Homo sapiens: one gene and its partners. The protein of the gene in region 1 binds, or shares a complex with, the protein of each later gene. Each region holds a gene or a part of one and is shown in the gene's direction. Other genes may lie near its edges.

What was found.
Region 2: SF3A3 (region 1) and SF3B3 share a complex: the UniProt entries of both Homo sapiens proteins name them as parts of the 17S U2 SnRNP complex.
Region 3: SF3A3 (region 1) and HTATSF1 share a complex: the UniProt entries of both Homo sapiens proteins name them as parts of the 17S U2 SnRNP complex.

The regions. Positions count from the first base shown.
Region 1 is NC_000001.11:37,956,468-37,959,150, reverse strand, and holds the end of SF3A3 (splicing factor 3A subunit 3), read left to right. Parts: intron 1-887; coding exon 888-965; 3' UTR 966-2,176; downstream 2,177-2,683. UniProt on the Homo sapiens protein: Component of the 17S U2 SnRNP complex of the spliceosome, a large ribonucleoprotein complex that removes introns from transcribed pre-mRNAs.
Region 2 is NC_000016.10:70,526,794-70,533,928, forward strand, and holds part of SF3B3 (splicing factor 3B subunit 3), read left to right. Parts: intron 1-2,079; coding exon 2,080-2,406; intron 2,407-2,705; exon of another isoform or gene 2,706-2,806; intron 2,807-3,951; coding exon 3,952-4,124; intron 4,125-5,685; coding exon 5,686-5,827; intron 5,828-7,135. UniProt on the Homo sapiens protein: Component of the 17S U2 SnRNP complex of the spliceosome, a large ribonucleoprotein complex that removes introns from transcribed pre-mRNAs.
Region 3 is NC_000023.11:136,507,510-136,512,899, forward strand, and holds the end of HTATSF1 (17S U2 SnRNP complex component HTATSF1), read left to right. Parts: intron 1-1,581; coding exon 1,582-1,671; intron 1,672-2,572; coding exon 2,573-2,710; intron 2,711-3,298; coding exon 3,299-4,504; 3' UTR 4,505-4,837; downstream 4,838-5,390. UniProt on the Homo sapiens protein: Component of the 17S U2 SnRNP complex of the spliceosome, a large ribonucleoprotein complex that removes introns from transcribed pre-mRNAs.

The DNA.
Region 1 (2,683 bases):
GCTGTGATCGCACCATTGCACTCCAGCCTGGGTGACAGAGCAAGAACTTACCTCACAAAAAAAAAAAAAAGAAAAAAAAGTTGAAATGGCAAGTGGGAGTACCCAATCTCATGTTCTGCCATGGAGATTTATAGACTAAAATGCCGAGACTCTGTATCATGTATTAGATCTCCTTTGAGGAAAGCATCTAATGAGAGATGATACTCTCATAGCGACAGGGAGATGTCCTTGTTGGTCTTATGATGGTCATCCCAAGCAGCAGGTTTCAGAGATCAAGAATGACATGTATGTAAGGAATGGTACTGACTCACTCCAAGTCCCATAGTAACTGACAATAGCCTCCCTTTTTTTGAGTCAGTGGTTTTCAGTATTTTTTTTCTTTTTGGCAGCAAAACTCTCTTCCACTTGTAATATAGTACTCTGATATATAAAATAGAATCAAGCAGAATTGCCCTGGACATGGGGAAGCTCAGACTTCCTGGCTTCCCTTTCAACCCCTGCAATGGCCTCTGAGCAGAATCCTGGGATTCTTGGGAACCATTTGAAAACTGCTGTTGTAGGTCAGCCTTTCTCAACCAGGGTTCCCCATCTTAAACATAGAGAGCTAAATAAACTATTTTCTCAGATACTCTAATGATGGGTCATGACTGATATCATTCTAGATGTCTACGAGAGAAGTTAATTCATTGCACACGGTGGCTGCTTTGGGGCAGTGGGACTTAATTCTCTTGTGGAACCCCAGTTGAGAAAGGCTTAGATGAATGCCAATCTTAGTGTACCAGAGTATGCCATGGAATCAGGCCAGGATGAGCTCAGGTACTTAGAGATTGGTTCCAAACATTTCTTTTAGGAGAGCTGTCTAACAAAGTGTACCCCTTCCTTTTCAGGAAGAATATGAAGACTCAAGTGGGAATGTTGTGAATAAGAAGACATACGAGGATCTGAAAAGACAAGGACTGCTCTAGTGTTCAGGGATGTAGCTCAGCTTTTGGGCTAGCCCAGGCTTCCCTAAGATCTGCTTTTTCTATTTCTCCCAACCAAATCCTCTTAAAGACCCTTTGCTATGTAGTCTCATGGTCTAGCATGCATCTTGTAGAAACAAGGCATGCTGGCAGATTGCAGGGTTGAGATGTGTTTTATCTGTTTTATATTTTAAAAGATTCTGCCAGAAAATAAAACCAGACCTTGTTCTAAAGCCCAGGGTTATGGACCAACTCAGTGCTTCAGGTCTTAACGCCTCCATACCTCTTCCTCACCAACTTTACTAGTAGCTGAGATTTAATGGGCACCTATTATGCTACATATCATGTTAGGTAAATCTGACCTGACCTCTTTCCCCACCCTCCTTTGTTGCTGCTTCCCTGAATGAGTATTACCCCAGGATGAGGTCTGCCATCAGCTTAGTTAGCCATTGATGCAAATACTAGGGAAAGACTAGGAGGATGAGCCAGGGTTGCTACTAAGGACTAAGTGTCGCACCAAGGTTTGCCTTTTGTATTTGCATAAAGAAAGGAGTTGGAGCTGGGTGCAGTGGCTTGTGCCTGTAGTCCCAGCTACTTGGGAGGCTGAGGCAGGAGGGTTGCTTGAGACTAGCCTAGGTAACATAGTGAGACCCTGTCTCATTAAAAAAAAAAAAAAGGCATGGTGGCACGCACTGTAGTCCCAGCTACTCAGGAGACTGAGGCTAGAAGATCCTTTGAACCTAGGAGTTTGAGACCAGCCTGGGCGATATAGTGAGGCCCCATCTCAAAAAAAAAAAAAGGGGGGGGGGGGGGAGTTGGGCTGTGTTGGAATGGGCCTGCAGCCCAACAAACAAGGGAACTAGGACCGACAGTGACTTCACCAGCTTGCTAGGTCAGAATGAGAGACTGGTGGGTCTGTCTACCTGTTTCTTCTACAAGATCCCTATTTGACTGTAAAAGTAGCTAATACTCACATGTTCTCCAATCCCAGGTAGCCATGGTAGAGTTGGGTAGAGTTGAGCAGCTGCCCCAGGATCCAAATGTGGTGTCTGAAATGGAAAGAACTAAGGCAACCAGGAAGGCACTGATCTGCCTTATAAGCACAGTCATCTGAAAGTCAGGCCTGCTGCAGGACAGGATCCCCCAGAGACCCCATTTGCCTCTCAACACTCAGACCTTCAACTGTTTTTTAATAAATCTACTTTTTAAAAAAATGTTAATCTTTTTCTTTATATTACACATTTATATCTTATTTTTCTAAAAACCTACCAAGAACCAGTGCCGCACTCATCCCATGCAGAGGCAGGCTGGCTAATATATCTACTTTTAAAAATTCCAACTCAGGCCATGCGCAGTAGCTGATGCCTGTAATCCAAACACTTTGGGAGGCCGAGGGCAGCAAATTACTTGAGGTCAGGAGTTGGAGACCAGCCTGGCCAACATGGCGAAACCCTGTCTCTACTAAAAATACAAAAATTAGCCAGGCGTGATGGCATGCACCTGTAGTCCCAGGTACTCAGGAGACTGAGGCAGGAGGATCACTTGAACCCAGGAGGCGAAGGTTGCCATGAGCCGAGATCACGCCACTGCACTCCAGCCTGGGTGACAGCGAGACTCCGTCTCAAAAAAAAAAAAAAAAAAATCCCAACTTGAATTAGCCTTCTGCCTCACACCAATCTTTTGCCCTGGTTATTTCCATGGCAGTAAAGTTTCACCACCCC
Region 2 (7,135 bases), on another chromosome or scaffold:
TGCAGGAAATGTTTTCCATTTATGACAAAACAGTTGTTGGTAAATGTAAACAATTCAAATTATGAGATGAGGTGTTAAGTTCTGGTGCATTATCTGTTACCTATTTCAGATGCATTTCCTAGTTCACAAATTGTGTAATGATTCTTGTCAGGGCACACTTTTCTTGGCTGCTTACCTAGTGCCAAGTCGTGTGCCTATTGCTGTAAGACATACTGAGATGTGTAAGACCTGATCTTTGATCTTGAATTTGACATCAGGTTGGGTAAAAAGAATGTCTGAAGGTGTTTGTCTGGTTATCAGAGAGTAATTTAAATAAAGGGAAGGTTGGACCTTGGTTTGGTGCTTGAAGAGATAGAACTTTTGTATGAGAGAAAAGGGAAAATGCAGTTTAGGTAGGGAGTGCTGTCTGCATAGAAACAGATAATTTGCTTACGTTTACCATGTGGGGAATATTTTTGTAAAGATGGATTAAGGCTAGGTTTGAATTGTGTGAAATTTCAAATATTGGATTAGGAAATACAAAGTTACTGAAAGTGAGGTACTAATGTTTATAAAATAAAAACTTTTTCTTGCCATTTGCAGATTTAACATTTTTGAGTCAATCCAAGTAATGCAGGAGGTTCATGATTGTGTAGAGTAAGACATAATTTTGTTGAGGTTTAACTCTGAATACTTAATGTGGTACTGAATACTTAATGTGGTACTGAGAGGCAGCCTAACTGACCACACAGCATTCATATTTCATGTTGTTATTTTCTCTGATCCTCATTATGGCTCTTCCTGCGGGTTTGAGTCTTCATTTGGGTAATTTAGTTATTCTTTGCTGCATTTGATTAAGGAAATACGTATATGGGAATTTGGAGATTTGTGACTGACTTCACTATGTAATGCAATGAATCTCAGCTGGAGTTTGGATAGAATTTTTGAAAGCACGTTTTTGTTTTTTGTTTGTTTTGTTTTTGTTTTTTGTTTGTTTTGTTTTTGTTTTTGTTTTTTCCTTGAAACAGAGTCCTGCTCTGTCACCCAGGCTGGAGCGCAGTGGTGTGATCTTGGCTCACTGCCACCTCCGCCTCCTGGGTTCAAGCGATTCTCCTGCCTCAGCCTCCTGAGTAGCTGGGATTACATGCGTGCACCACCATGCCCGGCTAATTTTTCATATTTTTAGTAGAGATGAGGTTTCACCATATTGGCCAGGCTGATCTCGAATTCCTGACCTCGTGATCCACCCACCTTAGCCTCCCAAAGTGCTGGGATTACAGGCATGAGCTACTGTGCCCTGCTGAAAGCACATTTTTAATACTAATTTTATCTTTCAAATTCCTTTTCCAATTCAGTCTTCCTTTTTATCTAAAATGATGGAGAAGTTTTCTTTTTTTTTTTTTTTTTTTTGAGACGTAGTCTTGCTGTGTTGCCCAGGCTGGAGTACAGTAGTGCGACCTCGGCTCACTGCAAACTCCGTCTCCCAGGTTCAAGCGATTCTCCTGTGTCAGCCTCTGGAGTAGCTGGGATTATAGGCACGTGCCACCACACCTGGCTAATTTTTGTATTTTTAGTAGAGATGGGATCCCACCATGTTGGCCAGGCTGGTTTCAAACTCCTGACCTCAAGTGATCTGCCTGCCTCAGCCTCCCAAAGTGCTGGGATAACAGGTGTGAGCCACTGTGCGTGGCCTTTTTTTTTTTTTTTTTTTTTTTTAGAGACGATATCTTGCTGCGTTTCCCAGGATGGAGTGCAATGGCAGGATTATAACCCACTACATTCTCTGAACTCCTGGGTTCAAACTGTCCTCCCACGTAGCTGGGACTAGAGGCACAGGCCATCACACCTGACTAATTTTTTTTTGAGACGGAGTTTTGCTCTGTTGCCCAGGCCGGAGTGCAGTGGCACAGTCTTGGCTCACAGCAACCTCTACCTCCTGGGTTCAAGCGATTCTCCTGCCTTAGCCTCCCGAGTAGCTGGGATTACAGGCATGTGCCACCACGCCTGGCTAATTTTTGTATTTTTAGTAGAGACGGGGTTTCACCATGGTGGCCAGGCTGGGTTCTGGTTGTTTATGATCTTTATTTTTTGGTGATCTAGGAACCAAACAACAAGAAATTGTTGTTTCCCGTGGGAAGATCTTGGAGCTGCTTCGCCCAGACCCCAACACTGGCAAAGTACATACCCTACTCACTGTGGAAGTATTCGGTGTTATCCGGTCACTCATGGCCTTTAGGCTGACAGGTGGCACCAAAGACTACATTGTAGTTGGCAGTGACTCTGGTCGAATTGTTATTTTGGAATACCAGCCATCTAAGAATATGTTTGAGAAGATTCACCAAGAAACCTTTGGCAAGAGTGGATGCCGTCGCATCGTTCCTGGCCAGTTCTTAGCTGTGGATCCCAAAGGGCGAGCCGTTATGATTAGTAAGTGATTTACTCTACTTGCTGTATATGCCTAGTTTAGGATAACAATGCTGTGCTCTTGGTGGTGTGCCAGTGCCAATTAATTACTTATGTGGGTTTGGCATCATGTTTGGATTTACTCTAGGTTTAAAGTTGCATTTCCTTTTTAAAAGAGTTGCATTTTCTTTTAAAACAATGGGAAAAATCTTAACACACCTTTCTACTTCCCATCTAGTTGGAAATGGGTGTTTTTCAATTTCTTTTTCTTTGGCAAAAAGACTACAATGAAATGATCTTATGTTATTAGACAGTGAATATCGTTGCTTTCATCAGCCTGAAGTGATGATTCACATTCATGTCTCTTCTCTGATAAATTCTTGAAGAAAATTTTTGTGTGTCTGATCAGGCCTCTAGAGGGCAGTCATAAATCGTTAGATCTATTTCAGAGAATAAGGCTAATGATAATTTTATGAATTACTGTTTTTCAGTATCCTTAAATGTAGGACTCATTAAAAAATTTTGACTAGTTAGTGGGATATTTAAGACCTGTATTAGGAAGAAGGGGGCCACAATGATGCCATTGTCTTTAAAAAAATTTATTTATTTATTTTTAAGAGATGGGGGTCTCAGCCGGGCACGGTGGCTATTTATCTTTAAAAGAGATGGGGTCTCAGCCAGGTGCGGTGGCTCACACCTGTAATCCCAGCACTTTGGGAGGCCAAGGTGGGAGGATCACTTGAGGTCAGGAGTTTGAGACCAGCCTGGCCAACATGGTGAAACCCAGTCTCTACCAAAAATACAAAAAATTAGCTGGGTGTGGTGGTGGGTGCCTGTAATCCCAGCTACTTGGGGCAGGAGAATCGCTTGAACCCGGGAGGCAAAGGTTGCAGTGAGCCGAGATAGCGCTACTGCACTCCAGCCCGGACGACAGAGTGAGACTGCATCTCAAAAATAAATAAATAAATAAATAAATAAATAAATAAATAAATAAATAAGAGAGAGATGGGGATCTCACAATGCTGCCCAGGATGGTCTTGAATTCCTGGGCTCAAGCAATCCTTCCTTCTGTCTTGGCCTCCCAAAGTGCTGGGATTACAGACTTGAGCCACTGTGCCCAGCTCCACTATTGTCTATTCTTTTTTTTTTTTTTTTTCAAATGAGGCAGAGTTTCGCACTTGTTGCCCAGGCTGGAGTGCAGTGGTGCGATCTCAGCTCACTGCAACCTTTGCGTCTCAGGTTCAAGCAATTCTCCTGCCCCAGCCTCCCAAGTAGCTGGGATTAGAGGCATGCACCACCACACCTAGCTAATTTTTTGTATTTAGTAGAGACAAGGTTTTACTGTGTTAGTCAGGCTGGTCTTGAACTCCTGACCTCAGGTGATCCACCCACCTCAGCCTCCCAAAGTGCTATTCTGATGATAGAAAACAGAATCCTGAGTTTTTATACTTGTAGAGTTACTGCTGTTAATAATGATTAAAAGAAAAGCATGATGTGACTCTAGCTGTTCTATAAGTCTCTCTTCTCATTATCTGGGAATCTTGTATGTTTTATCTCCTTCAACTACAGGTGCCATTGAGAAACAGAAATTGGTGTATATTTTGAACAGAGATGCTGCAGCCCGACTTACCATTTCATCTCCCCTGGAAGCCCACAAAGCAAACACTTTAGTGTATCATGTAGTTGGAGTAGATGTCGGATTTGAAAATCCAATGTTTGCTTGTCTGGAAATGGATTATGAGGTAATGGGGACCCTGTCTCTTTGCGTTTCTTTCAGTCACCTCAGTGTTTTTTTTTAAGATTGTTTTCCGGCCGGGCGTGGTGGCTCACGCCTGTAATCCCAGCACTTTGGGAGGCAAGGCTGGCGGATCATGAGGTCAGGAGATCGAGACCATTCTGGCTAACACAGTGAAACCCCATCTCTACTAAAAATACAAAAAGAAAATAGCCGGGCATCGTGGCGGGCGCCTGTGGTCCAGCTACTCGGGAAGCTGAGGCAGGAGAATGGCGTGAACCCGGGAGGTGGAGCTTGCAGTGAGCCGAGATCTCGCCACTGCACTCCAGCCTGGGCGACAGAGTGAGACTCCATCTCAAAAAAAAACGAAAAGATCGTTTTCTTCCTTGTGCATACCTTTTTTTCTTTTTTTTGAGACAGTCTTGCTCTGTTGCCCAGGCTGGGGTGCAGTGGCACAATCTCAGCTCGCTGCAACCTCTGCCTCAGCCTCCTGAGTAGCTGGGACTACAGGTGCTGCCACAACGCCCAGCTAATTTTTGTATTTTTAGTAGAGATGGGGTTTCACTATGTTGGCCAGGCTGGTCTTCTGACCCCAGGTGATTGGCCCACCTCAGCCTTCCAGAGTGCTGGGATTATAAGGCCTGAGCCACCTCACCCAGGCCCAGCCCCTTATGCATATCTTAATTCTGTCCTGCTAGCAGATCTTCATATTCCAAATGCCTTACTGAAATTCTTTGGGATGCTTCAGAGGTTAAGCAACTATTTAATAGTCTTTCTCTGATTTAAGTAATCTCCCTATGGAAACAAGATATTTATTGGGAAAAGCTTCATGAAAAACTTGAAGCTATGTTTAAGGTATTTTTTCACAGAACATACTATTGTTTTCCTTTAACGGAAGGCAGTATCCTCTAGTAGAGAGCTCCCTGGATCCAGAATTTGGAGATTGCAGTTCTCGTTCTAGCTCTGCCATTATCTTATAGCATAAACTTTGTCAAACTATTTGGCGTCAGCCAGGTGTGGTGGCATGTGCCTATAGTCCTAGCTGCTTGGGAGCCTGAGGCCCAGGAATTCTAGGCTGCAGTGAGATAAGATTGTACCACTGCAGTCGTGTACAGTGGCTCACGCCTGTAATCCAAGTTTGGGAGGCCGAGGCGGGCAGATCACCTGAGGTCAGGAGTTCGAGACCAGCCTGACCAACATGGAGAAACCCCATCTCTACTAAAAATACAAAATTAGCCAGGCGTGGTGGCACATGCTTGTAATCCCAGCAACTCGGGAGGCTGAGGCAGGAGAATCACTTGAACCTGGGAGGTGGAGGTTGTGGTGAGCTGAGATCGTGCCATTGCACTCCAGCCTGGGCAACGAGCAAAACTCCGTCTCAAAAAAAAAAAAAGATCATACCTCTGTGCACTGCAGCCTGGGTGACATAGTGAGAACCTGTCTCTCCAAAAAAAAAAGAAGACATTTGTGGACTTCTGTTTCCTCATTTGTAAATTGGAGTCCTGATGTCCTTTCCAGATCTTCGATTTTATGCTGATGATTAGTTTTTATGCCACTATTCTCTGTAGGAAGCAGACAATGATCCAACAGGGGAAGCAGCAGCTAATACCCAGCAGACACTTACTTTCTATGAGCTAGACCTTGGTTTAAATCATGTGGTCCGAAAATACAGTGAACCTTTGGAGGAACACGGCAACTTCCTTATTACAGGTACTTTTCTTTCAGAGCTGCTTTGTACCCTTTTACTTGGTTCATTTTATGCCCAAACCTAATAGGTTTTACTTAAAGGGTTTGGGAATTAATCCATTTGTTGTGAACCTGAATACCTTATCTTTTGGACAGGTTAGAAGTTCATGTGGTGGAGTGATTTTAAAAAGTGTTGGGGATAAAGACTGCCTAGCTCCTTAATAACTCATATTCTACTGAGGGCAGGGAAGAGAAGTTGAAGGGAGCAGTCAGCTTGGAATATTGATTACTGTTAGTTGCTGTGACAGTTTGGCTGTAGTCAGTCTTTGCCTCTCATTCAAACCTAACTCTTTCAAAAGCCAAACAAAATGGACAGACCCCACAAGATGGAACTTGTGAATTTGAAAACTTAAACAAAATAGAAATATTTTTGAAGACGATTACCAGATTGATCCAAAAATAAATTAAGAACTTCAATAGACCAGCGTTAGAGAAATTGAAGCAGTAGTCCAAAGTCACTCTCCCAAAAGATTGAGGTCCAGGATTTTCAGGAAAGCTTTTATCTTCTTGTTGAGGGACATATATGTATTCCGTTTTAAAACAAGTTTCTCGGCTGGGCATGGTGGCTCACGCCTATAACCCTAGCACTTTAGGAGGCTGAGGCAGGAGCATCACTTGATCTCAGGAGTTTGAGACCATCCTGGGAAACAAGGTGAGATCTTGTCTCAATGAAAAAGTAAATATTAAAAAAAAAAGTAAAACAGATTTCTCTAGAGTAGAAAAAGAGTAAATGCTACTGTGCCGCTCTCTGAGTCTAGTATGACTACAGTATCAAAACTAGGGATGGACAGTAACAAAAAAAATTTGCAGGCTAGTTCATACGGTTGTAGATAGGAAAAGCTAACATTCCAGCAAATCAGATTCAGTGTTTTAAATGCACATAGCTAAGTAACGTTTTTGGAGGAGCTAAAAAATGGAAAATATTTTCATGGTTGGAAATCAGTTCACCATTGGAAAATACACGTTACTAATTGATTATATTAAAAGACTAAATGAGTACAGCTACATTTGTGGTCATCTGCATTTCAGCAGGCTTGGGGAAAACTGATCTAGTTCTATTTTGAATCATTTGCACTTCAACTGATGTCTAAAATAAGATGTTGTTTGGGGAAGATACTGGAGAATAAAAATAAAGGACAGCACTTACCTTTGTTAATACGTTAAGCAGATGAATTTTTGATCACACATCTCATTACTTGTAACATATTACCATACCTTTCATTTACAAGGGCTTTTTCATTCTTTCAACACATTTTTATTGAGCCTTTGCAG
Region 3 (5,390 bases), on another chromosome or scaffold:
AAGATCGCGCCACTGCACTCCAGCCTGGGCAACAGAGTAAGACTCTGTCTTCAAAAAAAAAAAAGAAAGAAAGCAAAGCACTGAGACATTGGTGTAGAAATGGAGGTGATGCCTACCCCCACCATGGAATCACGCTTCAATTTAAAAGTTGTTAAACATGTTGACACAGTTTTTTTTTTGTTTTTGATATAATCCTGATTTTCCTTGGTGAATAAAAGAGAGGTATTAGAAACAGTTTATCAAATTCTTAAAAAGATTTTCTTGAATATTGGCTTTGTACAAAAGTCTGTGCTATTTTCTGTGAGGTATCTGAAACTCAATAAAACAAAGGTCCTGCCTTCTGAAAGCACTCACTCTAATAGGAGCTAACCCCACACACACACACACATGTCAAAAGCCATAACTTTTATTCTCTACTCCTTATTCTTCTCAGGTCTGATCATTTTGTATAAAGCAAATTGGCTGCTTCTCCAAAATTGAGTTTTATAAGTGGGGAAGTCCAGAGTTCTGCCAACTGTAGTTTTAGAAGCCTCAGATTTATGCAAATGAGTATGATTTTATATTTTTTATTTTAAATCAGATTTCAGTAACTCCCTGCCAGCTTATTTTTGCTTTTTGAAGAACCTTATGGGAGGAAAGCCACAATTCTCTATAGTTCCTCTTTAGCTGATGAGAAAAATGAAAGCGTGTAAGAAAGATAGATGCGCTTAAATGTTTCCTAGAAAGTATAAGTCACCTTCAATAGAAATTTGTAGATAGGATATCTTCATTTATATTTGTATATAGTTGAAATTCAAGCTGATAATGTAGCTTTTCCTGAGCCCTTTTTATGCATTGGTACTTGGAGAGAGATTTGTTAATTCCCAGAGGGAATCTTAAATCATTTTGTTGTTATAGGGAGATTTCCACCCGAACTCTAGGCTACTAGAAACAGCAGTACTTGAATGTTCTTAATAGGCTCATAGTTGCAAGAAAGCAACAGCTAAGAATGTATTTTATTGCATGCTTAATAACAGCTCCTTATTTGTATGGTTCTGTTACAATGTGGTAGGAGACAAGACGAACAGTAATCCTTACGATGTTTATTCTGTGAGTTAAAATAGCATCTTGGAAGCACAAAAATCAATCTTAGGACACTTAGTCAATAAAAGGGATATATTGCTCTCTCTCTCTCCATTACAACATTTCTGTAAATAGGAATGTATCCAAAACACAAAGCAAAGGGCTCTTATCAGTGTGATGTTGATGCCCATGCAGAGCATAGGAATTAGCAGTCTGACTGAATATGCGCCACAGGACTTCCACCATCTTCTCCTGCTCTGCCACTGTAGGCCCCTTCTGCTGCCTGCCATACTTGTCCATTTCCTTTGTTTAAAGCAGGGCAAACCTATAGGAGTAGCAGTGTATGTAGTAGTATAATTTTATTTGATTTTGAGTTTTTAAAAAATTGTATAGAATGAAAAACACAACCTTAAGCAAAACCTTTTTCTGTTTGTTGATTTATCAGAACAAGAAATTGGATTCTCAGGATTTATAGTTAAAGAAGGGAGCAAACCCATTTTAATCATGCATATTTTTCAGGATGATCCGTTGGTGCTGAATGAGATCAGAGAAGACCTTCGAGTAGAGTGTTCGAAGTTTGGACAAATTAGGAAACTCCTTCTCTTTGATGTAAGTTCATGGCTTGGACATATGGATCCTAAAGCAATAATTCCTCCACCTTATAAGTTCTTCTCAGATGTTAGTATACCCCTGAATTTTAGATTAATGTTTTTATATAGTAGTCCACTATCTTGTGATAATCATCTATTAGCAATAATGAGATGAACGTGGATTACAAGCCAAGGATTTGATAGATTTGGTATGCCTTGCTTATTTTCCGTCTTCATTACCCTAGAGTACATGATCAGGTGAAAGAAGGTACAGGAAAAATGTATGAGATCTCTGGTTCCCTATTAGTCACATTTTCCCCTCTTTGTGAATTATTCTCATCCTCCATATTTGGAACAATCAGGGACAATATTCTCCTGTATATTTCCTCTTCTCATCCTCTTTTTACTTCCAGAATTGACACCCAATAATTAAGAGTCACCATTTATTGCTTGTGTATTACAAGCTACTTTACATGTTATCTCACTTCTCAAAACCCTTTGAGGCAGGTTAGCACTATTACACCCATTTTACAGATGAGGAAGCTAACACTTTAGAAATTGAACACCTGGCTCAAGGTTGTTCATTTGGTAACTGACAGAGCCAGGATTTAATCCCAGGGCAATATGACTTCAGAGTTTACACTCTTAACAATTATACTGTCCTGCTTCTCATTAGACAGGGATGTCAGCAGAAACATTTCCAAGGACATTGTGCTTGGTTCTTGCTAGGTAAGATTGAGGTAAAGAAGCAGCTGACTGCACGTGACTGGCTGGGATAAAATGGAAGAAAGACTTCATACATAAAGTCTTTTACTTCAGAGTATCAGAGAGAACACTACTACTTACCTACTTTGTGAAATGTATGTGTTTTATTTTTAATCTTATCATTCATTCCTTTTTTTTCTTTCTTATCTTTCTAGAGGCACCCAGATGGTGTGGCCTCTGTGTCCTTTCGGGATCCAGAGGAAGCTGATTATTGTATTCAGACTCTCGATGGAAGATGGTTTGGTGGCCGTCAAATCACTGCCCAGGCATGGGATGGGACTACAGATTATCAGGTAAATTTTGCTGCTTGTCAAGGGCACACACATTGTTTCATTACCAACAAATACTGATCCTTCAGATCTAAATTTTGGGTTTGGTTTAACCTATTTAATGTAACAATGCTTCTTTTATTTTTATTTACTTATATATTTTAATTTTTTACTCTTCCTCTTAATTATTTACAGTGCTGCTTTTAAATAATATTTTGCATTCAGAAGATAGAGAAATGTTTGAGTCTTTCAGTTTCTAAGTCTGAAAGTTTGAGGCTTGTTCAGAATAGTGATAAGAAAAGAACACATTCAACCAAATGTTACTCTTCCTTTGTATGCTGTAAAGTATAGACAGAGCTCAAATATTAACTTTTTAAGAGATGAGACATTTCTGCAGTACTGTGATATTTGGCCTTTATTTAAGTGGTCTTATTTAAGGTCAACTCTAGTAAATCAAGATGTAAAGTTTTGAAAACTGAAGATGGAATTGCTTTCATTTCCTAATAAGAGATGCTTTATAAAATTAAGGTTGTTTCATCAATATTAGATATGTTCAGAGAAGTAACCTTTTGCCTGAAACTTATTTTAATGGCAGTCTCCATTTATCCACAGGTGGAGGAAACCTCAAGAGAAAGGGAGGAAAGGCTGAGAGGATGGGAGGCTTTCCTCAATGCTCCTGAGGCCAACAGAGGCCTTAGGCGTTCAGATTCTGTCTCTGCTTCCGAAAGGGCAGGGCCTTCTAGAGCAAGGCATTTTTCAGAGCACCCCAGCACATCTAAAATGAATGCTCAAGAAACTGCAACTGGAATGGCGTTTGAAGAACCTATAGATGAGAAGAAGTTTGAAAAGACAGAAGATGGGGGAGAATTTGAAGAAGGTGCTTCTGAAAACAATGCTAAGGAAAGTAGCCCCGAAAAAGAGGCTGAAGAAGGCTGCCCTGAAAAAGAATCTGAAGAGGGCTGCCCCAAAAGAGGGTTTGAAGGCAGCTGCTCCCAAAAAGAGTCTGAAGAAGGCAATCCCGTAAGAGGATCTGAAGAGGATAGTCCTAAAAAAGAGTCTAAAAAGAAGACACTCAAAAATGATTGTGAAGAGAATGGCCTTGCAAAGGAATCTGAAGATGACCTCAACAAGGAGTCTGAAGAGGAGGTTGGCCCCACAAAAGAGTCCGAAGAAGATGACTCAGAGAAAGAGTCTGATGAAGACTGCTCTGAAAAACAGTCTGAAGATGGCTCCGAAAGAGAATTTGAAGAAAATGGTCTCGAGAAAGATTTGGACGAGGAAGGTTCTGAAAAGGAGCTTCATGAAAATGTTCTTGACAAAGAGTTAGAAGAAAATGACTCTGAAAACTCCGAATTTGAAGATGACGGCTCTGAAAAAGTGTTAGATGAGGAAGGCTCTGAGAGAGAGTTTGACGAAGATTCAGATGAAAAGGAAGAAGAGGAGGATACATATGAAAAAGTATTTGATGATGAGTCTGATGAGAAAGAGGATGAAGAATATGCAGATGAAAAGGGGCTTGAAGCTGCTGATAAAAAGGCGGAAGAAGGTGATGCAGATGAAAAGCTGTTTGAAGAGTCAGATGACAAGGAAGATGAAGATGCAGATGGAAAGGAAGTTGAAGATGCTGACGAAAAGTTGTTCGAAGATGATGATTCCAATGAGAAGTTGTTTGATGAGGAGGAAGATTCCAGTGAGAAGTTGTTTGACGATTCTGATGAGAGGGGGACTTTGGGTGGTTTTGGGAGTGTTGAAGAAGGGCCCCTATCCACTGGCAGCAGCTTTATTCTCAGTAGCGATGATGATGACGATGATATTTAATCCCTTAAACTTGCTTTTTAGGGAGAGTCCTCCATCTACATTTGCCTGTGCTTCAGGGTAATTACTAGTAGTGTTACATGAACATGTGCATAGTGGTAGGATGCCATCAGATTAAAGCATTGAAGTGTTTCATTGTTACCTGTACCTAATGGTTTTAAATATATGTTAATTGATTGTTTAGTTAAAATGTCATAGTTACAATGCAAGTAAACTGGATACTTGTTCTTTTGTCAGATTTGTTAAATGCATGCAGAATAATATTTTTAAGAGTATTGATTGAAGTTTGTGATATTCATCAATAAAAATGAGTTGATAATATGCAGAAACTGAAAATTGGACTTGAGTTAAATTGCATTTTAAATTCTTGATATTGCTTTATTTATACTGAAGGTTGGCTTTTCTGAGGACTTGAAGAATCTCTTTGGAGTCTCCTTGCTTCCCGCTGGTATTAGCACGTATGTCTCCATTTCCTCTCTATAAACCAGAACATGTTCCTAAACTCAGAAAACAACCCTCTGGATTTTTTTTTTCTGCCCAGTCCTTGCAAATTAACTCTTGTTTGTTTTCTACCCTCTTTCCATTAAAATTGACTCTCAGATGTGCAAAAGTGAACTTCCTGCAGTCTACAGCTCCCATTATTATTAAAAATCTAAAGAAACAGATTAGAATTCTACCTTGTACTGTTAGCGTCTCTGGGCCCCTTTAGAAGTTAATTCAAATTAGAGGACCTCTTCCCAGAAAAAAATGTACACACTACACTACACAACTTGTGTACTGTTTGGGGAGGTTCATGGATTCCCTGAAGTTGAAGAACTTCATGCATGCTTCAGTTGTTCGTTTTTTTAGAATCATAGTGCCTAGCACTGTGCAAAGTTGTGTAGTCCCA